Linked DNA regions of Homo sapiens: all the other regions are linked to region 1. Evidence: fine-mapped expression QTL. A gene starts in region 1. Each other region holds a variant in brackets. All regions are shown on one strand. Distances are between the middles of the regions. Region 1 holds the start of TJP3 (tight junction protein 3). Region 2 overlaps TJP3 (tight junction protein 3). Region 3 overlaps TJP3 (tight junction protein 3).

Region 1 (8,174 bases):
GCTCAGGGTGTTCAACAGGGGACTTTCTTTTCTTTTCTTTTTTTTTTTTTTGAGACAGAGTCTTGCTCTGTCACCTAGGCTGGAGTGCAGTGGTGCAATCATAGCTCACTGCAGCCTCCACTTTCCTGGGCTCAAGCGATCCTCCCACCCCAGCCTCCTGTGTAGCTGGGGCCACAGGTGCACGCCACCCTGCCCAGCAGATTTTTGTATATTTTGTAGAGACGGTATCTCGCTATGTTGCCCGGACCTGTCTTGAACTGCTGGGCTCATGCGATCCTCCCACCTCGGCCTCCCAAAATGTTGGGATTCCAGGCGGGAGCCACCAAGCCATGCCAAAGATGCCATTTCCCCCAAAAGGGAGGACGGCTGAGCTCTAGAAGGAAGTTCCACAGCAGAGAGAGAAAAGCAGAGCCCATGTGAATTCCAGCCCCTGCCTCAGCTTCCTCATCTGTAAAACGGGGATCCCGGTTTTGACCCTGAGCAGTATTTCAGGGAAGGCTCAAAGGTTTAAGCATCTGCCACTAAGGATCCCCTGGGCTGCCTCTCCATGCTTCTAACTCCACTCGGGCCCCCAGTGGGAAAGCCAAAGGTGAATTACAGTGTCCCAGGGCTAGAGGGGGCCCCCTGCCCCATGGAAACCATCTACGCTAAGGTGCTGTCATTCTGGGCACGGAATGACATTTTTGAGATGGAGTCTTGCTCTGTCTCTGGGGCTGGAGTGCAGTGGTGCGATCCCGGCTCACTGCAACCTCTGCCTCCCAGGTTCAAGCAATTCTCCTGCCTCAGCCTCCCAAGTAGCTGGAATTATAGGCACACGCCAACACACCTGGCTAATTTTTGTATTTTTAGTAGAGACAGAGTTTCACCACGTTTGCCAGGCTGGTCTCAAACTCCTGGGCTCAAGTGACCCACCTGCCTTGGCCTCCCAAAATGCTGGGATTACAGGCGTGAGCCACCGTGTCTGGTCCAGAGGAGAACTGAAAGAACACACACACACAGGCAATCAAGAATGCTGAGGCCGGGTCGGTGGCTCTCGCTTGAAATCCCAGCACTTTGAGTGGCTGAGGCTGGCAGATCACTTGAGCCCAGAAGCTCGAGACCAGGCCGGCCAACACAGCAAAACCCCATTTCTATTTTCAATTTTTAAAAAAAAGAAAGAAAGGAAACAAATTAATTCCCCTCTGTATAGGCTATAAAGTCTTACCGGTTCCCATATTAATTAATGAATTAAGCAGACACATAAAGCACCTTTTTTTTTTTTTTTGTACTTTTAGTAGAGACAGGGTTTCACCATGTTAGCCAGGCTGGTCTTGAACTCCTGACCTCGTGATCCACCCGTCTCGGCCTCCCAAAGTGCTGGGATTACAGGCGTGAGCCACCGCATCCGGCCTCATTTTGTATTTGTATGAGAGTAATGATTTTACTATTTTGGGAAAAAATATCCTTTAATATCATAAAGCCAAATGTCTTCAGGCCAGCATTTAAAGCTCTCCCTTCATTTTGGCCGGACGCGGTGGCTCACGCCTGTAATCCCAGCACTTTGGGAGGCCGAGGCGAGCGAATCACCTGAGATCAGGAGTTCGAGACCAGCCTGACCAATACGGTGAAACCCTGTCTCTACTAAAAATACAAAAATTAGCTGGGCGTGGTGGTGGGCGCCTGTAATCCCAGCTACTTGGGAGGCTGAGACAGGAGAATCGCTTTGAACCCAGGAGGTGGAGGTTGCAGCGAGCGGAGATCGTTCCACTGCACTCCAGCCTGGGCAACAGAGCGAGACTCCATCTCAAAAAAAAATAAAATAAGGCCGGGCATGGTGGCTCACGCCTGTAATCCCAGCACTTTGGGAGGCTGAGGTGGGCGGATCACAAGGTCAGGAGAGACCATCTTGGCTACCACGGTGAAACCCCGTCTGTACTAAAAATACAAAAAATTAGCCGGGTGTGGTGGCGGGCGCCTGTAGTCCCAGCTACTCGGGAGGCTGAGGCAGGAGTATGGCGTGAACCCGGGAGGCGGAGCTTGCAGTGAGCCGAGATCGCGCCACCGCACTCCAGCCTGGGCGACAGAGCGAGACTCCGTTTCAAAAAAATATAAAAAGTAAAATAAAGTTACAAAGCGCCTCTCACGCATGTTACCCTCTGTGCAGCCATTGGCTCCATTACTGCGCTCTTGTTTCATGTCTGTCTTTCCCCACCAAAATATGCGCCCCACGAGAGCAGGAAGCTTGGCCTGCCTTGCTCACTGCTGAATCTCCAAGGCCTGGTGACCCCACACTCGCGCATACAGTAAGTGCACAATAAATGCCCGTTCGCTCCCTGGGCGACCCCTCCCCCCAGCCTAGGCTTCCGCTAACCTCAATCCATTCCAAAGGGTGTCAGGTTCCACCCTGAGCAAACACAGCTCCCCTGGCCCCTGGCCAGCCCTAAAGAGGAAGAACAAGTACCCATACTCCCTGCCCTGGACTTTCCCCGGGACTCAGGGCCACGAGGAAGCACCAAGCCAGGGGGCAGGACTTTCTCGAGATGCTGAGCCTGAGGCATCAGCTGGGGGCAGGGCCAGCCTCCAGAGCACCACCCCCGCCACCAGCTCCCTGTCCTCTGCGTCTTGACTCTTGGCCGCCTGACATTTCTACTTGGCTGTGCGGCCCGGGGTAAGCGGCTGTCCTTCTCTGAGCCAGGGTTCATCCTCTACAAACCAGGAAGCTGATGAGACCAGACTCCGATTCGGACCGGGATAGCTCGTCTTGACCCCAGAATGACCGAGAATCTGTTACCCGCTTTATTACATCCGGCACTCAACAGCCCTGTGCCTTGGTGACTCCATATCCCCCCACCCCTTTTTTTTTTTTTTTTTTTGAGACAGAGTCTCACTCTGTTGTCCAGGCTGGAGTGCAGTGGCACAATCTCGGCTCACTGCAACCTCCACCTCCTGGGTTCAAGCAATTCTCCTGCCTCAGCCTCCGGAGTAGCTGGGATTACAAGTGCTTGCCACCATATTCGGCTCATTTTTTGTATTTTTAGTAGAGACAGGGTTCCACCATGTTGGCCAGGCTGGTCTCGAACTCCTGACCTTGTGATCCACTCGCCTCGACCTCCCAAAGTGCTGGGATTACAGGCGTGAGCCACCGCGCCCGGCCCTCAATATCCCCATTTTACAGAGCAGGAAACAGAGGCCCGGAGAGAAGGGAGGTGTGGAAGCCAGATCTAACTGAGTCCACGGGTTTGCTCTCAAAACCCAGGCAAGGTGGGATCCATGTCGCCCACCCCCACGGACTCCCGAATCTCAAGCAAGCCTGCTCCCTGGGAGCTCTGCAGCCACACAGCCACAAGGTGACCCCAAATGCCGGGCCGCTCTGTCCCCCACTATGCGATCATCCATGCCTCCTCGGCCCCGGGGGACCCTCTTGGTTCTGGAGAGAGACTTGAGATGCAATCGGACACTTGGCTCACGAGGAAGCTCCCTTGGTCTTCCCATTTGGGAGCAAATGACCCAGAAAAACACTTTTGCTGCCGACCCCTCCCCTCTCTGGCTCTGAGCGCTCCTTCCTCCTTCCCCTCTGCCCCATCCCACAGAGATTTTGCTCGGAGGAGTAAAGATTAGAAAAAGAAGTCTGGGCGCAGTGGCTTGCGCCTGTAATCCCAGCACTTTGGGAGGCCGAGGGGGTTGGATCACCTGAGGTCAGGAGTTCGAGACCAGCCTGGCCAACATGGTGAAACCCCATCTCTACTAAAAATACAAAAATTAGCTGGGCATAGTGGTGGGCGCTTGTAATCCCAGCTACTCGGGAGGCAGAGGTGGAGGCAGAGGTTGCAGTGAGCCAAGATCGCACCACTGCACTCCAGCCTGGGCAACAAGAGCAAAACTCCGTCTCAAAAAAAAAATTAGCAAAAGAAAGGCCACCCCAATCCCTCCCTGCAAAGCTCCTGGAGGTTCCAGCGGTGAGAACAGGGTGAGGGGTTGGGGGGCGGGAGACGCAGTTGTTTCAAAACTTGGGAGCCTTTTAAGAAGTTCCAGGAGGCTCAGAGATGAGTGAGGTCGCAGCCTTTCCCACCTGTCACCTCCTAGCCTCGGGCTGCAGGAGGTAAACCCAGGCTCCGTCTGGACTGATATCCCCTCCCCTCCTCAGTTAGGGGGATCAGAGACCAACCTGTGCCCCTTTGCCGCCTCCCCGGTCCCTGCGCCACCTAGGTAACAATGACCCTTTTAAGTTTCCAGCTCAGCGTCCTGGGCAGGCCGCCAGGTGCAGTAACTGCCGGTCAGATAATCCCTACGAAACTATGTCAGATGCCCACGCAGGAGTGTCAGTTTCCTGCTTTCCGAGGAGCCGGGGAGACAGCTCGTGGTGGGGGAGGTTGGGGGGGAGTCTAAGGACCCTCAGCTGGGGAAGGCCAGCTCAGACAATGCACACTGGGTGGAAAAGCACAGTGGGGCGGGGGACTTACCTGTCTAGGAGGCTGGGTGGCCTCTGGGCAGGCAGCAGGTGCCAGGGCCCGGGTGCCTGCCTGGCACGGGTGGTGGGGAGGGAACCCGAGGCTTGTAGCTCTGGCCTCCCCACCTGTTTGACCAACTTTTCCTCTCTTGTGGTGGCAACAGGGAGGCAGGTCCCCTGCCAGTGGAACTGACGACCACAGACACAGGGAGACGGACCAGGGTGAGGGGCGGGCCAGCAGGAGGACTGGGTGTGTGGCTCTGTCGCAAGGTGCCCTCACGTGGGAGCAACTGGCCTTAACCCCTGCTTGCCCAGAGGTGAGCTTGCTCCTGCCTGTGCCCTCACCGCCGAGGCCCTGGTATCAAGCGTCCGCACATGGTAGGTGCTTAGGAAACCCTCGTTGGCTACATTCAGACATGAATGGACCGCACTCCCGGAGTCCCCCTCCCTCCTGCTTCTTGCATCTGGAGCTGCCCAGTCTCTGTGCTTGCTGAGCCTCCTGCCAGGCACGCCGGCCCATCAGGCTGTGGCTTGGCGCACTCCCTTCCCCACGCAGATCTGTGCGCAGTCTGCCTCTCTGCTACGAAGTGACTGGGTTCCTACGTACAGAAGCTTCTGCCACTTCCCCGCTGTGTGGCTTTGGGCAAATTACAGGGGCTTCTTGCTGTCCTCATCTAAAAAACAAGAAAGGGTCAGGTGTGGTGGCTCACACCTGTAATTCCAGCACTTTGGGAGGCCGAGGTGGGAGGATCACTTGAGCCTGGGAATTTGAGACCAGCCTGGGTAACACGGTGAAACCCATCTCTAGAAAAATTTTTATATATCTTTTGTTTGTTGTTTGTTTTGAGATGGAGTCTCCCTCTGTCACCCAGGCTGGAGTGCAGTGGCGCGATCTCGGCTCACTGCAACCTCCGCCTCCTGGGTTCAAGTGATTCTTCTGCCTCAGCCTCCCAAGTAGCTGGGATTACAGGCGTGCACCACCACGCCCAGCTAATTTTTTTTTTTTTTTTCAGTAGAGACGGGGTTTTCCTATGTTGGCCAGGCTGGTCTCAAACTCCTGACCTCAAGTGATCTGCCCGCCTCGGCCTCCCAAAGTGTTGGGATTACAGGCGTGAGCCACCGAGCCTGGCCTAGAAAAGTTTTTTTGTTGTTGCTGCTGGCTGTTGTTGGTTTTGTTTTGTTTTTTGTTTTTATTTTATTTTTTTTTTATTTTTTTGAGACAGAGTCTTGCTATGTTGCCCAGGCTGGAGTGCAATGGCTTGATCTCGGCCCACTGCAACCTTTGCCTCCCGGTTTCAAGTGATTCTCCTGCCTCAGCCTCCCGAGTAGCTGGGATTGCATTACAGGCACCAGCCATCATGCCCAGCTAATTTTTGTATTTTTGTAGAGACGGAGTTTCACCATATTGGCCAAGCTGGTCTTGAACTCCTGGCCTCAGGTGATCCGCCTGCCTTGGCCTCTCAAAGTGCTGAGATTACAGGCGTGAGCCACCACGCCCAGCCCAGAAAACTTTTTTAAAAATTAGCCAGATGTGGTGGTACACACCTGTAGTCCCAGAAACTCAGGAGGCTGAGGTGGGAGGATCAATTGACCCTGGGAGGTTGAGGCTGCAGAGAGCTATGACTGTGCCACTGCACTCCAACCTGGGTGACAGAGCAAGATCCTATCTCAATAAAATAAAATTAACCAGGAAGGGTTGGGCATGATGGCTCACACCTATAATCTCAGTACTTTGGAGGCCAAGGTGGCAGGATCACTTGAGGCCAGGAATTCGAGACCAGTCTGGGCAACATAGTGAGACACCCCCCCATCTTTACCAGTACATTAAAATTAAAATTTAAAAAATTAAGTCTGGGCTCAATGGCTCACCCCTGTAATCCCAGCACTTTGGGAGGTTGAGGTGGGAGAATTGCTTGAGTTAGGAGTTCGAGACCAGCCTGGCCAACATGGTGAAACCCCATCTCTACTAAAAATACAAAAATTAGCCGGGCAAGGTGGCATGCGTCTGTAATCCCAGCTACTCAGGAGGCTGAGACGGGAGAATCGCTTGAGCCCCAGAGGCAGAGGTTGCAGTGAGCCGAGATCGCGCCACTGCACTCCAGCTTGGGAGACAGAGCAAGACGCTGGCTGAAAAATAAATAAATAAATATTAAAATGCCACCTCACAGAGGTCATGGACTTTGTCGTGCTCATCCCTGCCGTGTCCTATGGCCTAGCACAGTGCCTGGTACACAGTAGGTGCTCAATACATGTTTTTGGAATGAATGGACTAGGGTCCCTCCAGCCTGCAGTACCTCCTGCTGACGGTAGTAGCCACTATGGCCACCAGGCGGCGCCAGAAACCACGCAACCGGCCCCCGCCGGGCAGCCTCGGTTTTCCACCCTGCGTAATGGGGACAGCCAACCAGGGGCGTGGGGGGATGCGGGGAAGGCACAGAAGGCTGGTGGCTCTCCCGGACCCCAGCCCCTCCTCTCTGTCCCTTGCCTCTCCCCTCCTGTCACCCCATCCCTGCCCTAGTTTTCTTTTTTTTAAGTTTTTTGTTTGTTTGTTTGTTTTTGTGTTTTGAGACGGAGTCTCACTCTGTCTCCCGGGCTGGAGTGCAGTGGCGCCATCTCGGCTCACTGCAACCTCTGCCTCCCGGGTTCAAGCGATTCTCCTGCCTCAGCCTCCCGAGTAGCTGGAATTACAGGCATGTGCCACTACGCCTGGCTACTTTTTTGGTATTTTCAGTAGAGGTGGGGTTTCATCATGTTGGCCAGGCTGGTCTCAAACTCCTGACCTCAGGTGATCCACCCACCTCTGCCTCCCAAAGTGCTGGGATTACAGGCGTGACCCACCGCGCCCGGCCAAGAGGCTGCTTTTAACTGCTTGTTTTGATGTTGACTTTTGCGTCTGTAAGTCATGACTGTTCAGCCAGTTTTAGTAATTTTTTTTAAGTATATTTCCTCTTCATTATCCTCATCAATGATCTAACCTCCAGCACTTCCTCCACTTTATCTGGCATCCAAATTGCCTGGAAGGGGGAAGTCATGAACACCCAGATTTTACCACCCCCACCACCCCGCCCAGTTTCTGGTGTGTGAAGTCTGCGTTGGAGCCTGGGAAACTGCATTTCTTTTCCTTTTCTTTGGTTTGAGACAGAGTCTCGCTCTGTCGCCCAGGCTGGAGTGCAGTGGTGCAATCTCGGCTCACTGCAACCTCTGCCTCCTGAGTTCAGGTGATTCTCCTGCCTCAGCCTCCCAAGTAGCTGGGACTACAGGCGCATGCCACCACGCCTGGCTAATTTTTATACTTTTAGTAGAGATGGGGTTTCTCCATGTTGGCCAGGCTGGTCTCGAACTCCTGACCTCAAGTGATCCGCCCACCTTGGCCTCTCAAAGTGCTGGGATTACAGGTATGAGCCACCGTGGCTGGCCCCTTCCCCCAAACTTTATCTGGCACCCAGTTTGCCTGGAAGGGAGGAGTCATGAACACCCAGATTGTGCCCTCCCACCACCCTACTCTGCCCAGTTTCTGGTGTGTGAAGTCTGGGTGGGGGCCTAGGAACCTGCATTTCTTTTACTTTTCATTGTTTGTTTTGAGACCAGGTCTCGCTCTGTTGCCCAGGCTGGACTGTAGTGGTGTGATCATAGCTCACTGCAGCTTCAAACTTCTGGGCTCAAGCGATCCTCCCACCTCAGCCTCCCAAGTAGCTGGGACTACAGGTGTGCACCACCATGCCAGGCTATTTTTGTTTTTTTGAGAGGA
Region 2 (8,174 bases), 32 kb before region 1:
CATGTCCAGCTAATTTTTTGTGTTTTTAGTAGAGATGTGGTTTCACCATGTTGGCCAGGCTGGTCTCGAACTCCTGACCACTGCGCCCGGCCTCCTAGTCTATCTTAATTGTTTTTGTTTTTTTTTTTTTTGACAGAGTCTCATTCCGTCGTCAGGCTGGAGTGCAGTGGCATGACCTCGGCTCACTGCAACCTCTGCCTCACGGGTTCAAGCAATTCTCCTGCCTCAGCCTCCCGAGTAGCTGGGACTACAGGTACGCGCCACCACACCTAGCTAATTTTTGTATTTTTAGTAGAGACGGGGTTTCACCATGTTAGCCAGGATGGTCTCAATCTCTTGACCTCGTGATCCACCCGCCTCGGACTCCCAAAGTGCTGGGATTACAGGCATGAGCCACCGCACCCGGCCATTGTTTCTACAGTTGTTAATTTGGAGTCTTCTCCAAGGGACCTTGCCTGTCGTGTTCACTGCTGTCTCAGAAGATCAATAAATTTCTCTTAAACAAATAACAGGTGGCACTTTGCCTCAATTGGCAATGGCTACCTGGTGAACTGTGTTAAGAAGGATTTGGAGGTTCTATCCAGACAAACGGTGCCAAGATGGATTGAGGATGTCTGGCTTGGGTATTGGGGGGGGCACTGGTGGCCCATCTGCTTCATGTTTGCCATCATTATTCTAACTCTCCCCCGACCCCCCACAAAAAAACAGTTGTGAAACTATTTCACCAACGAGGTTTCCAGAGGATCTGGCTTCTCACCTGCGATTTCAAACTGGTCAGGCATCTCAGCAGTCAACTTCTGCATAGCAATGTCGGCCACGGGTCCCAGGATCACTACCGGGCGCTTGAAACTGGCTGAGGGGTAGAGACACAGTGAAAGAATCAGGGTCCCATTTGCGATCAAAGACTGCTAGTGTGTTGTACAAACCCCTCCACTTCCTTATAGTAAACAGCCTATTTAACCAGGACCATAGCTACCCAGCCAAATACTACATCTCCCAGTGTCCTTTGCAGCTAGGTTAGCCTTATGACCAAATAATGGCCAATGGAACACTAGCAGAATTGATGTGTACATTTCTGGGTTCCGCCTTCAAGGGCAGGAATAAGCCCCTCTCCTGCCTTCATTCCCTTTCTTCCTGGCTGTAGGGTCTCTTTTTAGCAGTTGAACCTAGCTAACTCATAGGTCAGCAGACTACAACCTGAGGGCCACATCTGGCCCACTGCATGTGTTCGTCAATAAAGTTTTATCAAAACACAGTCACAACCATTTCTTTATGTCCTGTCTATGGCTACCTTTGAGCAGAGCTGAGTAGTTCTGCCAGAGACTAGCCCACAAAGCCTAAAATAGTTACTATGTGATCCTTTGCAGGAAAAGTATGTTGACACCTGGCCTACCAGATACACCATTTTACCACTGAAGAAACAGTCACAGAAGCGTCTTGAGGGGAGAAAAGTGGTAGCCCAGGGTCTTTGCAACTTAATCCTTCTCTTTCTCCCTTTCTTTCTTTTATTTTATTTACTTTTTTTTTTGAGATGGAGTCTAGCTCTGTGGCCCAGGCTGGAGTGCAGTGGCGCAATCTTGGCTCACTGCAACCTTCACCTTCCAGGTTCATGCAGTTCTCCTGCCTTAGCCTCCTGAGTAGCTGGGATTACAGGCGTGCGCCACCATGCCTGGCTAATTTTTGTATTTTTAGTAGAAACTGGGTTTCACCATGTTGGTCAAGCTGATCTCGAACTCCTGACCTCGTGATCCGCCCGCCTCGGCCTCCCAAAGTGCTGGGATTACAGGCGTGAGCCACCGCACGTGGCCTATTTACTTATTTTTTTGAGACAGAGTCTTGCTGTGTCACCGAGGCTGGCGGTGCAGTGGCTTAATCTTGGCTCACTGCAACCTCCATCTCCCAGGTCCAAGTGATTCTCCTGCCTCAGCTTCCTGAGTAGCTGGGATTAGAGGCGCCCACCACCACGCCCGGCTAATTTTTGTATTTTCAGTAGAGACGGGGTTTCACCACGTTGGCCAGGCTGGTCTCGAACTCCCGAACTCAGGTGATCCACCCACCTCCCAAAGTGCTGGGATTACACCTCGGCCTCCCAAAGTGCTGGGATTACAGGCGTGAGCCACCACGCCTGGCCGTGGCCTTGTATTTCTAGGACGTTTTCATCTGGATGTTGGAGCAGCGCGATGACAGTGTCAAAGGCTTTTCTCAAGGTCCATCCACCCACCCCTGTCCCGGGCAATTTGCTCTTCCCACCCCTTTTGTGGTTTTATTTGGAAAATCGCTGCACCTGGGTTTTTAACCCCCTGTCCTCTGATAAGAGCTTAATCTCTTCCCTTCCTGAAATCAGGATGAGGCATTTTTCCCCCCAGAGTCTGGCTTTGTTGCCCAGGCTAGAGTGCAGCAGCATGATCATAGCTCTCCGCAGCCTCGACCTCCTGGGCTCAAGGGATCCTCCCACCTCAGCCTGCCAAGTAGCTGGGACTACTGGCGTACCACCACACCTGGCTAATTTATTTTTTATTTTGTAGAGACAGAGTCTCACTTTGCTGTCCAGGCTGGTCCCAGACTCCTGGGCTCAAGTGACCCACCCATCTTGGCCTCCCAAAGTGCTGGGATTACAAGCGTGAGCCACCACGCCCGGTCAAAGAAGATAAATTATTAAAATTATTATTATTGCTATTTCTTTTTCCTTTTGTAAGGCTATCTACATGCCTTGCACCATATTTCTGTTGGAGACACAAATAGATTTTTAAGGAATGAACCCCCTTCCTGTCCTTCTGTCCCCTAAAATAACCCAAAATTTTTTTGTTTTTTTGTTTTTTTTGAGACGGAGTTTTGCTCTTGTTGCCCAGGCTGGAGTGCAGTGGTGTGATCTCCGCTCACTGCAACCTCTGCCTCCCGGGTTCAAGTGATTCTCCTGCCTCAGCCTCCCAAGTAGCTGGGATTATAGGCACCTGCCACCATGCCCAGCTAATTTTTTGTACTTTTAGTAGAGATGGGATTTCACCATGTGGGCCAGGCTGGTCTAGAGCTCCTGACCTCAGGTGATCCACCTGCCTCAGCCTCCCAAACCATTGAGATTACGGGCGTGAGCCACCGCACCCAGGCCCAAAAGTATTTTTGATAGAAGGAGAGTGGTTAGAAACATGCTTTTTTTTTTTTTTCTTTTGAAGACAGTGTCAATCTGTGGCCCAGGGTGGAGTGCAGTGGTGCGATCATAGCTCACTGCAACCTCTGCCTCCCGGGTTCAAGTGATTCTCCTGCCTCAGCCTCCCAAGTAGCTGGGATTACAGGCGCCTGCCACCATGCCCAGCTAATTTTTTGTACTTTTAGTAGAGATGGGATTTCACCATGTGGGCCAGGCTGGTGCGATCATAGCTCACTGCAACCTCGACCTCCCAAGCTCAAGCAATCTTCCTGCCTCAGCTTCCCAAGCAGCGGGGACTATAGGTATGCACCACCATGCCCAGCTATCTTTTTAAATTTGATGTAGAGGCCGGGCGTGGTGGCTCACGCCTGTAATCTCAGCATTTTGGGAGGCTGAAGCGGGTGGATCGTGAGGTCACGAGTTCAAGACCAGCCTGGCCAACATGGTGAAACCCCGTCTTTACTAAAAATACAAAAATTAGCTGGGGGCGGGGTGATGGGCGCCTGTAATCCCGGTTACTTGGGAGGCTGAGGCAAGAGAATCGCTTGAATCAGGGAGGCAGGGGTTGCAGTGAGCTCAGATCACGCTATTGCACTCCAGCCTAAGACAGAGCAAGACTCTGTCTAAAAATAAAAATAAAAACAAAAATAAATAAATAAATAAATTTGAGGTAGAGATGTAGTCTTGCTTTACCGCCCAGGTTGATCTGGAACTCCTGGCCTCAGCGATCCTCCTACCTCGGCCTCCCAAAGTGTTGGGATTATAGGCGTGAGCCACCACGCCGGGCCAAGACTGTGCCTTTTAGAGGCTGAATGTTAGTGAACAGGTGCACCAGGAGCTGTGTGTGAGGCCTCCCCAGGGCCCCTCCAGCTCCGGGCCCCACCTTCTCGCAACACCACTCGTTCGTAGGGCGGGTAGCGGCCCTGTCGGGTCAGAGCTGAGAGGTCCTCACGGCTCCGCTGAGTGGTCTTCTTGGCTCCTCGACGAAGACCCCGCAGCCGCCAGAACTCGGCCCGAGCATTGGAGCCCGCGGAGGAGCCGGGCCCGACTCCCACGGCCCTCTGGGCAGCTTCCAGGCTGGCCAGCTGCTCCGCCCTGGGGAGAAGAGGGGACAGTACTGAGCACTGGGGTCAGCAGCATGGTGGCCCCAAAGACGTCCTCGTCCTACCCCTCGGAGCCTGTGGACAGGCCACTTTGTATGGCAAAAGGGACTCTGCAGATGGGATTATTATTA[C/G]TATTATTATTATTTTGGGTTTTTTGAGACAAAGTCTTGCTCTGTCACTCAGGCTGGACTCGTTACAACCTCTGCCTCCTGGGTTCAGGCGATTCTCCTGCCTCACTTTCCCAAATAGCTGGGATTACAGGTGCCCGCCACCACGCCCAGCTAATCTTTATTATTTATTTATTTACTTTTTTGAGATAGAGTCTCGCTCCGTCGCCAGGTTGGAGTGCAGCGGTGCAATCTCTGCTCACTGCAACCTCCGCCTCCCAGGTTCAAGCGATTCTCATGCCTCAGCCTCCCAAGTAGCTGGGATTACAGGTATGCACCACCACGCCCAGCTAATTTTTGTATTTTTAGTAGGGATGGGGTTTCACCATGTTGGCCAGGATAGTCTCAATCTCTTGACCTCGTGATCTGCCCGCCTCAGCCTCCCAAAGTGCTGGGATTACAGGCGTGAGCCACCGTGCCTGGCCTGCAGATGGGATTAAACTGATGCTATTGAGGTGGATGATGATCCTGGGTGACCCAGGGGACCCGATGTCCTCACAGGGTCCTCACAAGAAGAGGCGGGAGGGTGAGAGTCAGAGAGAGACTAGAAGAGGCTGTGCTGTGGCTATGAAGGGGGAGGAAGGGGCCCCGAGCTGAGGGATGCGGCCCCTCTAGACTCTGGGAAAGGTGGAAAATTGGTTTTCTCCTGGAGCCTCTGGGAGGGCCCAGGCCTGCCCATACCTTGACTTTAGTACTTTTGCTCTCCAGAACTGTAAGAGGATGTGTGTGTTGTTTAAAGCCACTAAGTTTCTGGGCATCTGTTACAGCAACAACAGGAAGCTCATACCAGCACCAAATGGGGCCCGCCCAGAGCCTTTTGTGGACCTCCTCAGATTGAACCACCAACACTGCTAAGCAGTGATATCATGCCTATTTATTTATTTATTGAGACAAGAGTCTCACTCTGTTGCCAGGCTGGAGTGCAGTGGCGTGATCTCGGCTCACTGTAACCTCTGCCTCCCAGGTTCAAGCGATTCTCCTGCCTCAGCCTCCCAAGAAGCTGGGATTATAGGCATGTGCCACCACGCCCAGCTAATTTTTGTATTTTTAGTAGAGACGAGGTTTCACCATGTTGCCCAGGATGGTCTCGATCTCTTGACCTCATGATCTGCCCACTTCAGCCTCCCAAAGTGCCAGGATTACAGGCCTGAGCCACCGCGTCCAGCCCAATCGAGCCCATTTCTAACGGGGAGACTGAGGCTGAAGCAGAAGTGCCCCACTGCAGGAGCACACAGTCCCCACCTGCTCTGGTTGGGAATGATGCCCCGCTCTTGCTCCCGCAGGTCACGACCCATGCGCACCGCCAGCCAGTGGCCTCCTCGTGCGTGGCTCTGCCCGGGGCCGGGGTGCAGCGTGTCCAGCACGTGGAAGACGTCGCCACGGGTGAAGCCCAGGCCAGACGGTGGACTGGGCTCCAGCTCAAAGTGAGTGCGGATGTAGAAGGAGTCACCCACGCGGGACTGCACCATTTTCCAGAAAACTGGGGAGAGCGGGAGGCCACATGAGCTGCCTGGGCTGCTGCCTGATCTGAGCCCTCCCCACCCGAGAGTGGGCCTGGCTGGAGATTTGGGGCACTCTCCCTGTAGGGGCCAGGGAGAGGGATGGAGGGTGCAGAGATGCAGATTCAACCACATCCCTGCACTCACCACCAGGCCACACAGCCAGGTCCTCCCCCCGCAACACACAGGCACACCCATATCCACGCGCACTCACTGTCCTGCTTCCTCTGCGTCACCAGCTCCATCTCCTCGCCTGGTGGCAGCCCCAGCAGGAACTGCACTGCCTCCTCCCGTGTCAGGTTCTGGAATGGCACGTCATTCACCTGCCAGAAAGCAAGTGCAGCTATAGAAAAAGCTCTGGTACCTCTTGGGCGTGCATGAGATCCTGGACCTTCCTCTGGGCAAAACTCAGCCCCAGCTGCTTCCAGAGCTGCTGCCAAGGGACCCGGCAGTTCCCCGAGGGCTTTCCGACTGGGGTATCACCCTATGGCTGTGTGATGTGTGACACAGACAGCTGGTGGCATTGTAAGGATACAAGAGTTTTGACACAGAAACGGGCACAGGCACTGCACTTGTCCTCAGATAACCAAATCATGGTGGGTTGTCAATATCAAAACATGGGAACAGAGGTCATGGCATGGAGCTCGATGGAAACTGTGTGAAATGCTCAAAAGAACTCAGACGTAGTCACAGTAGTCACAGGGTCGTGACAGGGACAACGATATATGGACACACAGTGGGTCACAGATGCCTACCACCAGGGTCATGACAGGGACAACAATATATGGACACAGCCATCTGCTCTCCGGGTCATGACATGGACAGCAATATACAGACACAGCCACCTGCTCTCAGGGTCATGACATGGACAGCAATATACAGCCACCTGCTCTCCGGGTCATGACATGGACAGCAATATACAGCCACCTGCTCTCAGGGTCACGACATGGACAGCAATATACAGACACAGCCACCTGCTCTCAGGGTCATAACAGGGACAGCAATATACTTGCACAGCTTGTGGGCACAGACACCTACTCTCGGGGTCATGACGTGGATGTCAAGGTTAGAATCCCACAAGCAAAATGAGTAGAAATACAGTAAAAAATACCATGACCCTCAGGCAATTTGGCATCAAGTTTTCACCCAGCCAGTGGGCTTATGACATGGAAAGTGGGGAGCTGTGACTCCATCATGAATCACAACTCACACTGCAAGGTCAAGACACAAGCAAGGTCATGAGAGCAAAGTGGGGGTGAGACTTGGTGAGTGAACTCGCGCAAGGGACAGGGGAGACAGCCTGGGGATGAGATGAGGCAAGGACAGAGATGGGGGGATGATGAGGGGCTGTGGATCCTGGAGGTAGTTATGACACTGTCATGAAGGCAGGACACAGGCAAGGTCACAACACAGACACAGGGGATGGTGGCACAGAAAATGACTATAAGTGGACATGGAGATCATGAGAGAATGATCTGTGACCTGACCACACGATTAGGACATACAAGACGGTCATGACACGGTCAACACAGCCAATGTCAGGAACAAGAGGATTGCGACCCAGACAAGGTCATGACATAGGCAATGAGGCTGTGACCCAAAGTCCTGACATTGATAACAAGGAGATTGTGACATTGATAACAAGAATGTCACATGAACAATGTCATATGACATGAACAACAAGATTGTTGTTCCCAATCTTGAGCACAGTGTCTCAAGCTTATAATCTCAGCACTTTGGGAGGCTGAGGCGGGTGCATCACTTGAGGCCAGGAGTTCAAGACCAGCCTGGCCAACATGGTGAAACCCTGTCTCTACTAAAAACACAAAAATTAGCTGGGCATGGTGGCGGCCACCTGTGATCCCAGCTACTTGGGAGGCTGAGTCAGGATGATCCCTTGAACCCGGGAGGCGGAGGTTGCAGTGAGCCAAGATCACACCCCCGCACTCCAGCCTGGGTGACAGAGCAAGACTCTATCTCAAAAAAAAAAAAAAAAAAAGTTAGCCAGGCGCAGTGGCTCATGCCTGTAATCTCAGCTACTTGGGAAGCCGAGGCAGGTGGATCACCTGAGGTCAGGAGTTTGAGACCAGCCTGGCCAACATGGCGAAACCCTCATCTCTACTAAAAATATAAAAATTAGCCGGGCGTGGTGGTGGACAACTGTAATCCCAGCTACTCAGGAGGTGAGGCAGAAGAATTGCTTGAACCTGGGAGGCAGAGGTTGCGGTGAGCCAAGATCACACCATTGCACTCCAGCCTG
Region 3 (8,174 bases), 42 kb before region 1:
ATGGAATTCTGGGGACACGGGGTGAAGGTATCTGTGGGTGCTAGATCTGGCTTTGAATCCAGCCATGGCCTGGACTCACTGGTTTCCCACCTGCGAGTCCTTGAGGGATGGACAGAAGGTTCTAGACCTGTGAGGGCCAGGCTGCTTGGATGGTTCTAGAACAGTGGGCTGTGCTTCCTGGCTGGAGAGTGCTAAGCCACCAGCTAGAACACTGTGTCTCCCGGCCATCTCGGAGAGCGTAGCCCTGGGGCAGAGCCTGTGGGAGTGGGCCCCTGGGGGCCGACCCTCTTCGCTGTCGCCCTCAGTGCCTGGTCCCTGTGACCATGAAGACCTCCTGGACGGTGTCATATTTGGGGCCAGGTACCTGGGGTCCACCCAGCTGGTGTCGGAACGGAACCCGCCCACCAGCACGCGCATGGCCCAGGCCCGGGAGGCCATGGACCGCGTCAAGGTGAGGGGGCGGCCGGGGCCGGGCGGGCAGGCGGGTGGGCTGCAGGCTGGGTCTGTGGGGGCCTCCACCTCCCACGCCGCCACCCACAGGCCCCCGATGGGGAGACCCAGCCCATGACGGAGGTGGACCTGTTCGTCTCCACCAAGAGGATCAAGGTCTTGACAGCGGACTCCCAGGTACGGGGCAGGGACCCGCCCCAGGGATGCGGGTGGGGTGATCGAGCCTGGCACGGCCCCCCAACCCACCCAGGCTGCCTCTCCCGCCCCAGGAGGCCATGATGGACCACGCCCTGCATACCATCTCCTACACAGCCGACATCGGCTGCGTGCTGGTGCTGATGGCGCGGCGGCGGCTGGCACGGAGGCCGGCACCCCAGGACCACGGCCGCCGCCTCTACAAGATGCTCTGCCACGTATTCTACGCGGAGGACGTGAGCAGCCAGGGCGCGGGGCCACCCTCCTGAGGCCCTCCTCACTGCAACTGTCGCCTCCCTCAGTGGGCCGTGCATTTAACCTCCCTCCCATAAGCTTATTTTTAAATTCTTTTTTTGGGACAAGGTCTCCTTCTGTCACCCAGGCTGGAGTGCAGTGGCGCAATCATAGTTCACTGCAGCCTCAACCTTCCAGGCTCAAGCGATCCTCCCACTTCAGCCTCTCTAGTAGCTGGGACCACCGGGGTATCACCATGCCTGGCTAATTTTTGTATTTTTTATAGAGACACGGTCTCGCTCTGTTGCCCAGGTGAACACGGTCTCAAACTCCTGGGCTCAAGCGATCCACCCACCTCAGCCTCCCAAAGTGCTGCAATTACAGGCGTGAGCCACCGCGTCCAGCCTCCTATAAGACTCCAAGACTCTCGGCCGACTCCCCGAAACCTTGCCCGCTCCTGGGCTGTCCCTGCCACCCATGAGGCCCCAGGCCCCCTGGCTGGGTCTTTGATAGCTTTTCCCACAGCCCATGCGCAGGGAGCTGCCTCCCTCATCGTCCCCCCAGCCCAGGGCTGCCCCTCCCCTTCCTTCTCCCCGTAGATTCCCCAAGATGCGGCTGTCTCTCCACCTCCCCCAAAGCCCCAGGGCAGAAGGCTGTGTCCTGGGACTCTCACCCCAGGTGGGGACAGGAGGGCTCAGCTCTGAGGACCCTGGGGACTTTGGGGACCTGGAGGAGGTGGGTGGGACACCCCAGGGACGCGCCACTCCTCCCCGCAGGCCCAGCTCATCGCCCAGGCCATTGGCCAGGCCTTCGCCGCCGCCTACAGCCAGTTCCTACGGGAAAGCGGTATTGACCCCAGCCAGGTGGGCGTGCACCCGAGCCCAGGCGCCTGCCACCTCCATAATGGGGACCTGGACCACTTCTCCAACAGTGACAACTGCCGGGAGGTGAGTGAGGTGCTGGGCAGCCCCCACCTGGTGCCCCCCACACCCGTGCACCTGCACCGGGCCCTGCTGAGCAGCCTCCGCGCCCCCTGTGTGTCCCAGGTGCACCTCGAGAAGCGGCGAGGGGAGGGCCTGGGCGTGGCCCTGGTGGAGTCGGGCTGGGGCTCCCTGCTGCCCACAGCCGTCATCGCCAACCTGCTGCACGGGGGGCCTGCTGAGCGCTCGGGGGCCCTCAGCATCGGGGACCGCCTGACCGCCATCAACGGGACCAGCCTGGTGGGGCTGCCCCTGGCTGCGTGCCAGGCCGCTGTCCGCGTGAGTTTCCTGGTGTGGCAGGGCCCCCACACTCCCAGGAAGGGGAGCTGAGTCCCAGAGAGGTCTCCTCCCTGGCCAGGTCTCTCCAGCCCAGCCAGGAGGGACAAAGTCGAACTTTTAAGTCCTGCCCACTGGTGTGCCCTTGGGGAAACTGAGGCCTGGAGAAGGGAGGCCACTTGTCCAGGGCACCTCCCTAGTACCAGAGCCAGGATGGAAATGCGGGTGGCCCAGCTCCAGGGCTGGGCCACTCTCTCTCTCTAACAAGAAACAGCTAATTTCTGGGGGGGTTTGTTTGTTTGAGACAAGGTCTCACTCTTGCCCAGGCTGGAGTGCAGCGGTGCACCTGGCTCATTGCAGCCTTGACCTTCTGGGCTCAAGCAAATCTCCTTCCTCAGCCTCCCGAGTAGCTGGGACCACAGGTGTGCACCACCACGCCCAGTTTATTGTTTTATTTTTTGTAGAGATGGAGTCTCACTATGTTGGTTGGCCAGGCTGGTCTTGAGCTCCTGGCCTCAAGTGATCCACCTGCCTCGGCCTCCCACAGTGCTGGGATTACAGGTGTGAGCCACTGCACCTGGCCATGTTTTTGAGTCTCAACCTTTGTTGCTCAGATGGGGAAACTGAGGCCCAGAGATAGGGAGGGACCTGCCCCCGTCAGAGGAATGAGGCCACAGTCCGTGCAGCCTCTTACAGATGTTTGCAGCCTGCCTGGAGAGCCCGGCTGTCGGCTTGGCTTTTGGCCATAAGGAAGCGATATGGCTCGGGTCAGACAGCTTCGACCCCATGCCCACCGGGCCCGAGTCTGTTCTCTATCACATCTGAGGGGGTCTTCCAGAATTGAGCCCCTGGACTCCAGGTCTCTGGTTTATGAGAGGGTAAACTGAGGCCCAGAGGGGGCTACAACCTGCCAGGCTGTCCGGCAGCTGAGTGAGGCCAACGGCCCCCGCCCCACAGGAGACGAAGTCGCAGACGTCGGTGACACTCAGCATCGTCCACTGCCCTCCCGTCACCACCGCCATCATCCACCGGCCCCACGCCCGCGAGCAGCTGGGCTTCTGCGTGGAGGACGGCATCGTGAGGCCCCGGCCCCTGGCCCCGGGGTGGGGGGGTAGGGCGGCCCTGAGCACGGCCCCTGAGCAGCCCCCACCTCTTTCCCGTCCCCCTCTTTTCTCCCCCAGATCTGCAGCCTCCTCCGTGGTGGCATCGCCGAGCGTGGGGGCATCCGCGTCGGCCACCGCATCATTGAGATCAATGGGCAGAGTGTGGTGGCCACGCCACACGCCCGCATCATCGAGCTGCTCACCGAGGCCTATGGCGAGGTGTGCGGGTGGTGGGTGGTGGCCAGGGGCGCCCCCACGTCCCCCACGAGCCCAGGCCTGCCCTGAGCCCCGTTCCGCCTCCACTCCCCAGGTGCATATCAAGACGATGCCAGCTGCCACATATCGCCTCCTTACAGGCCAGGAGCAGCCCGTGTACCTGTGACCACCTCATCCCTTGCCTGCCACTGTGCCTTCGCCTCCATGGCCCCGGAGCCCCATCCTGGGCCTGCCCTGGCTGGCCAGGACCCCAGCGGTTCTTGGTCCTGTATGATTTCCTAATATAAAAACAGTAAAAGCTTATGCATTTGGCAAAGTCTCGGATCAGGGTCTACGGGACCGAGGACCTTGTCCTTCCTGGAAGCCACTAGAAGCCGGTGCTGTGAAAATACTCTGTTTATTAAAGACCAGGCGGAGGGAGGTAAGGTTGTGGGTTCTGTATGGGAAACTGAGTCCCAGCCCCAGGGAGGGAGAAGGAGGACGGACCAGCTGGCAGCCTTCGAGAGGTCACAGGTCAGTGGCCGGACCCCAGTCATAGCCGTCTTCATCGGAGGACTCCGCATCATGTACTCGCATAAACTTTTTCTTCAGGGCTTCCCGTTCATAGGTTCTGGGGATCAGGAAATAGAATAGATGCTGTGGGTGGGAAGGGTGTGAGCTTTCTCACCATAAACTGAGGCTGGCTGTGCTAGGCACAGTGGGTGTGGGCAGAGATAAGCACATCTGGGCATTCATGGGTAGGGCCTTGTTAACAAACTCCTATGCATCCCTCAAAGCCCCAGCTGCAATATCCTGCCCTTCAAGAAGCCTTCCTAGGCCTCCCAGGAAGTGGATTCCTACTCCCTTGGCCCTGATTATATGGGGCTTAGAGAGGCTCTGGCAGGCTCTGTCTTCCCCACTAGGCTAGGGGCACCATGAAGGCATAGCTTGGATCTAGATCTGAGTCCGCAGAGTCTGAGTCCCAAGGGAAGGGTTGAGGGCCCCAATCTGGAATATGGGGTTCTTACCGCATGCTGTCCTGTCGCCACTGTCCCTGGGGGTGGCGGCTGTCCACCTTGGAGGAGAGGGAGAGAGGAGCTTCAAAACTCCCCCCAGAGCATGGTGAGTCGAGATCAATAACCACCTCCATCCCATCCCCCACCTTGGCCCGGGCCATGCTGCCCACTTGCTAACCCCGTGACAAGTCTGCAGGTCATCCCCAAATCTAAATGAGAAAACTGAGGCTGGGATAGGGGAAGGCCTTAGCTGAGACCTCCTAGCCTGTCAGCAAAAGGGGAATTGGGTTTCTCATCTGTGCAAGTCCTCACAGGGCCACAGCCATGAGTTCATGTACGTAAAGGACTTAGTACAGTGGCTGCTCCGTATGCAGCCTGCCATGGACAGTTGAGCAGGTTGGGTACTGCACAACCCCAGGAAAATCACTCTAATCAGAGATGTCATTGATTCATAGATTTTTACATTGACCTAGAGAGGGTGTGGAAGAAGATGCTGAGGCATATACACTAAGAGCTACATACACATTTGTTACTGTTAAACACCCAACTACAGCTGGGCGCTGTGGTTCACGCCTGTACTCCCAGCACTTTGAGATGCCAAGGCAGGAGGATCACTTGAGCCCAGGAGTTAGAGACCAGCCTGGGCAACA[T/C]AGCAAGACCACATCTCTGCAAAAAATGAAAAAAAATTAGCTGGGTGTGGGTGGTGGTGCGCGCCTGTGGTCCCAGCTACTCCGGAGGCTGAGATGAGAGGCTCCCTTTAGCTCAGGAGTTGGAGGCCGCAACGAACTATGATTGTACTACTGCACTCCAGCCTGGGCAGCAGGGCAAGACCCTATCTCTAAAATTTAAAAAATAAAATATATAAATTAGATAGGTCAAGTTCAAAAAGACACGCAACTACTATGTGCCAAAACTTGGGCTGAGCACATTGAGTGCTCACCACCGCCCTGTGCCACCAAGTCTGATACCATCCACCCTGTGTCCTAGATGAGGAAACAGGTGCACAGAGAGGTTAAAATGTTGGCTGGAGGCCAGGTGCGGTGGCTCACGCCTCTAATCCCAACACTCTGAGAGGCCGACGTGGATCACCTGAGGTCAGGAATCGGAGACCAGCCTGGCCAGCGTGGTGAAACCCTGTCTCTACTAAGAATACCTTAAAAAAAAAAAAAAATTAGCTGGGCATGGTGGTGCTCACCTGTAATCCCAGCTACCTGGGAGTCTGAGGGAGGAGAAACGCTTGAACACAGGAGGCCGAGGTTGCAGTGAGCCCAGATCGTGCCACTGCACTCCAGCCTGGGTGACAGAGCGAGACTCTAACTCAAAAAAAAAAAAAAAAAAAAAAAAAAAAGGCCGGGTGCAGTGGCTCACACCTGTAATCCCAGCACTTTGGGAGGCCGAGGCTGGAGTTCCAGACCAGCCTGACCAACATGGAGAAACCCTGTCTGTACTAAAAATACAAAATCAGCCAGGCATGGTGGTGCACGCCTGTAATCCTAGCTACTCAGGAGGCTGAGACAGGAGAATCGTTTGAACCTGGGAGGCGGAGGTTGTGGTGAGCCGAGATCACGCCATCGCACTCCAGCCTGGGCAACAAAAGCGAAACTCCATCTCAAAAAAAAAAAAAAAAAAGCCTGGGTGCAGTGGCTCATGCCTGTAATCCCAGCACTTTGGGAGGCCAAGGCGGGTGGATTACAAGGTCAGGAGTTCAAGACCAGCCTGACCAATGGTGAAACCCCGTCTCTACTAAAAATACAAAAATTAGCCGGGCATGGTGGCAGGTGCCTGTAATCCCAACTACTCAGGAGGCTGAGGCAGGAGAATCGCTTGAACCTGGGAGGTGGAGGTTGCAGTGAGCCAAGATTGCGCCATTGCACTCCAGCCTAGGCGACAGAGCAAGACTGCGTCTCAAAAAAAAAAAAAAAAAAAAAATGCTGCAAGTTACTCAGTGCCACGTGGGTCTCAGCTACCCCAGGTCTGAGTCCCAGAAACCAGTCTGACCAGGGAAGCCGTGTTTGTTGACGTCCTGGTAGAAAACAGGCTCCCAGTGTGTGTCTGCTCTGTGCTGGCATCCCCTCCGGAGACCCTTCCCAGGCCTGCCCCCCATGTCCGACGCACCTGGGCCCCCTGATGAGCCGAGATTCTCCCACGATCCCTCGGGCTCTGGGACTCATCTGCCTGCACGGGCTCCGAGGACCGGGCCAGGGCTGGAGCCGGGGGCTCATCATCCACATCCGTGTAGGGCCCCCCCTCGCCGTCTGTGTAGCCCTCGCCATCCGTGTACGCGCCGCCCTCGCCGTCCGTCTCGTAGTCGCTGTTAACGCGGCTGTCGCAGCTGAGGTCAGCGGAGCTGTCGGCCAGGCCGTGGTGAGGGAGGTCTAGGTTGTCCTCCAAGGAGCCATCCAGCTGTGGGGTGGGTGTGGATGCTGCGGCTGGCCCTGGCCAGGACCCCAGCTGCCACCCACGACATCCCCCCACCTTCAAACTCTGGTCCCAAATCAAGGCGAGGAGCCTGGAGCCTGGAGCCTCAGTGGAGGCTTCTCTGTTGACTCCAGGATGGGTTGTATCCATTGACCCTTCACCTGAGAGGCTCAGCCCCCAAATCCAAGCTGAGCCCCAAACCTTGACTCCAGCCCCAAGAGAAGACTCCATTCTCTCTCTCTTTTTTATGAGAAGGAGTCTCTGTTGCCAGGCTGGAGTGCTGTGGCGCAATCTCTGCTCACTGCAACCTCTGCCTCCCGGGTTCAAGTGATTCTCCTGCCTCAGCCTCCTGAGTAGCTGGGACCATGGGCGTGAGCTCCCGTGCCCCACTGACTCCATTCTCAAAACAGCTCCTCCAGGCTGGGCGCGGTGGCTCAGGCCTGTAATCCCAGCACTTTGGGAAGCTGAGGCAGGTGGATCGCCTGAGGTCAGGAGTTTGAGCCCAGCCTGGCCAACATGGTGAAACCTCGTCTCTGCTAAAAATACAAAAATTAGCTGGGCCTGGTAGCGCTCGCCTGTAGTCCCAGCTACTCGGGAGGCTGAGGCAGGAGAATCACTTGAACCCGGGAGGCGGAGGTTGCAGCAAGCTGAGATCACACCACTGTACTCCAGCCTGGGTGACATGAGACTCCATCTCAAATCAAACAACAAAAAACAGCTCCTCCAATCTCATCTCACCCAAGTTCCAGTCCAACACCCTTGTCTCAGGTCCCATCTTGACTCTGGCCACAGTCCTGATCCCTGACCAAGCCCTAACTCCCGACAGAGGCCCCAAACCCCAGCTGGGCCTGCACAGCGTCTGTGGGGCCTCCCTGCCCGACCCACCCACACCGCGGCAGTACCTGATCTTCCGCCGTCCAGATGGGCCGCGTCTGCTGCTCTCGAATGATGGCCTTGAGCTCCTGGTACCAGGTGTCACTCGTGCCATTCAGAGGGATGGTGGCTGCAGGGAGGGGACGTCAGTGTGTGCAGGAGACTCAGGCTGGGGCCCACCCGCCTACCCTGGGACACCCACCCCCCAACCTGTGAAGAGGTGGCTGCTGTGTTTTCGCAGCTTCTGGGCTTGTGCGTAGAGGCGACGGGTGCTGCGGCGGGAGGCAGGCGCCAGCCACTGGCGCAGTGCCTTGAGGGCCGGCCGGCTCTCGGGGATGAAGAAGACCACAATGGGGTAGTACTGCACATAGTTGAGGCGCTCGATGGCGGAGGGGGTCACATCCAGGAGCGCATGCTTGTCCTGGGCCAGGCCG

What was found. PIP is the estimated chance that this variant, and not a neighbour inherited with it, causes the effect.
Region 2: its variant is the best candidate, but not a certain one, in a credible set for the expression of TJP3 in blood mononuclear cells (TOPMed, PIP 0.58).
Region 3: its variant is the best candidate, but not a certain one, in a credible set for the expression of TJP3 in caudate (GTEx, PIP 0.53).

What each region holds. Positions count from the first base shown.
Region 1 is chr19:3,704,827-3,713,000 of GRCh38, reverse strand. TJP3 (tight junction protein 3) reads right to left here and starts at 4,617. Exons shown (of 21, transcript NM_001267560.2): 1 at 4,440-4,617. RefSeq lists enhancers at 1-452, 2,466-3,011, 3,847-4,508, 4,509-5,172.
Region 2 is chr19:3,736,618-3,744,791 of GRCh38, reverse strand. TJP3 (tight junction protein 3) reads right to left here. Exons shown (of 21, transcript NM_001267560.2): 12 at 6,129-6,237; 13 at 5,658-5,895; 14 at 4,029-4,240; 15 at 758-853. Among named protein-coding and RNA genes, the nearest start is that of APBA3, 21 kb to the left of the region's middle. RefSeq lists a silencer at 7,765-7,965. The variant C/G (reference allele first, on the strand shown) is at 4,380.
Region 3 is chr19:3,746,472-3,754,645 of GRCh38, reverse strand. TJP3 (tight junction protein 3) reads right to left here. Exons shown (of 21, transcript NM_001267560.2): 17 at 7,951-8,161; 18 at 7,770-7,870; 19 at 6,565-6,852; 20 at 4,462-4,508; 21 at 3,833-4,064. The coding sequence ends at 3,962. APBA3 (amyloid beta precursor protein binding family A member 3) reads left to right here. Exons shown (of 11, transcript NM_004886.4): 4 at 306-451; 5 at 541-627; 6 at 720-881; 7 at 1,656-1,826; 8 at 1,926-2,138; 9 at 3,093-3,212; 10 at 3,317-3,457; 11 at 3,549-3,874. The coding sequence ends at 3,620. Among named protein-coding and RNA genes, the nearest start is that of APBA3, 11 kb to the left of the region's middle. The variant T/C (reference allele first, on the strand shown) is at 5,100.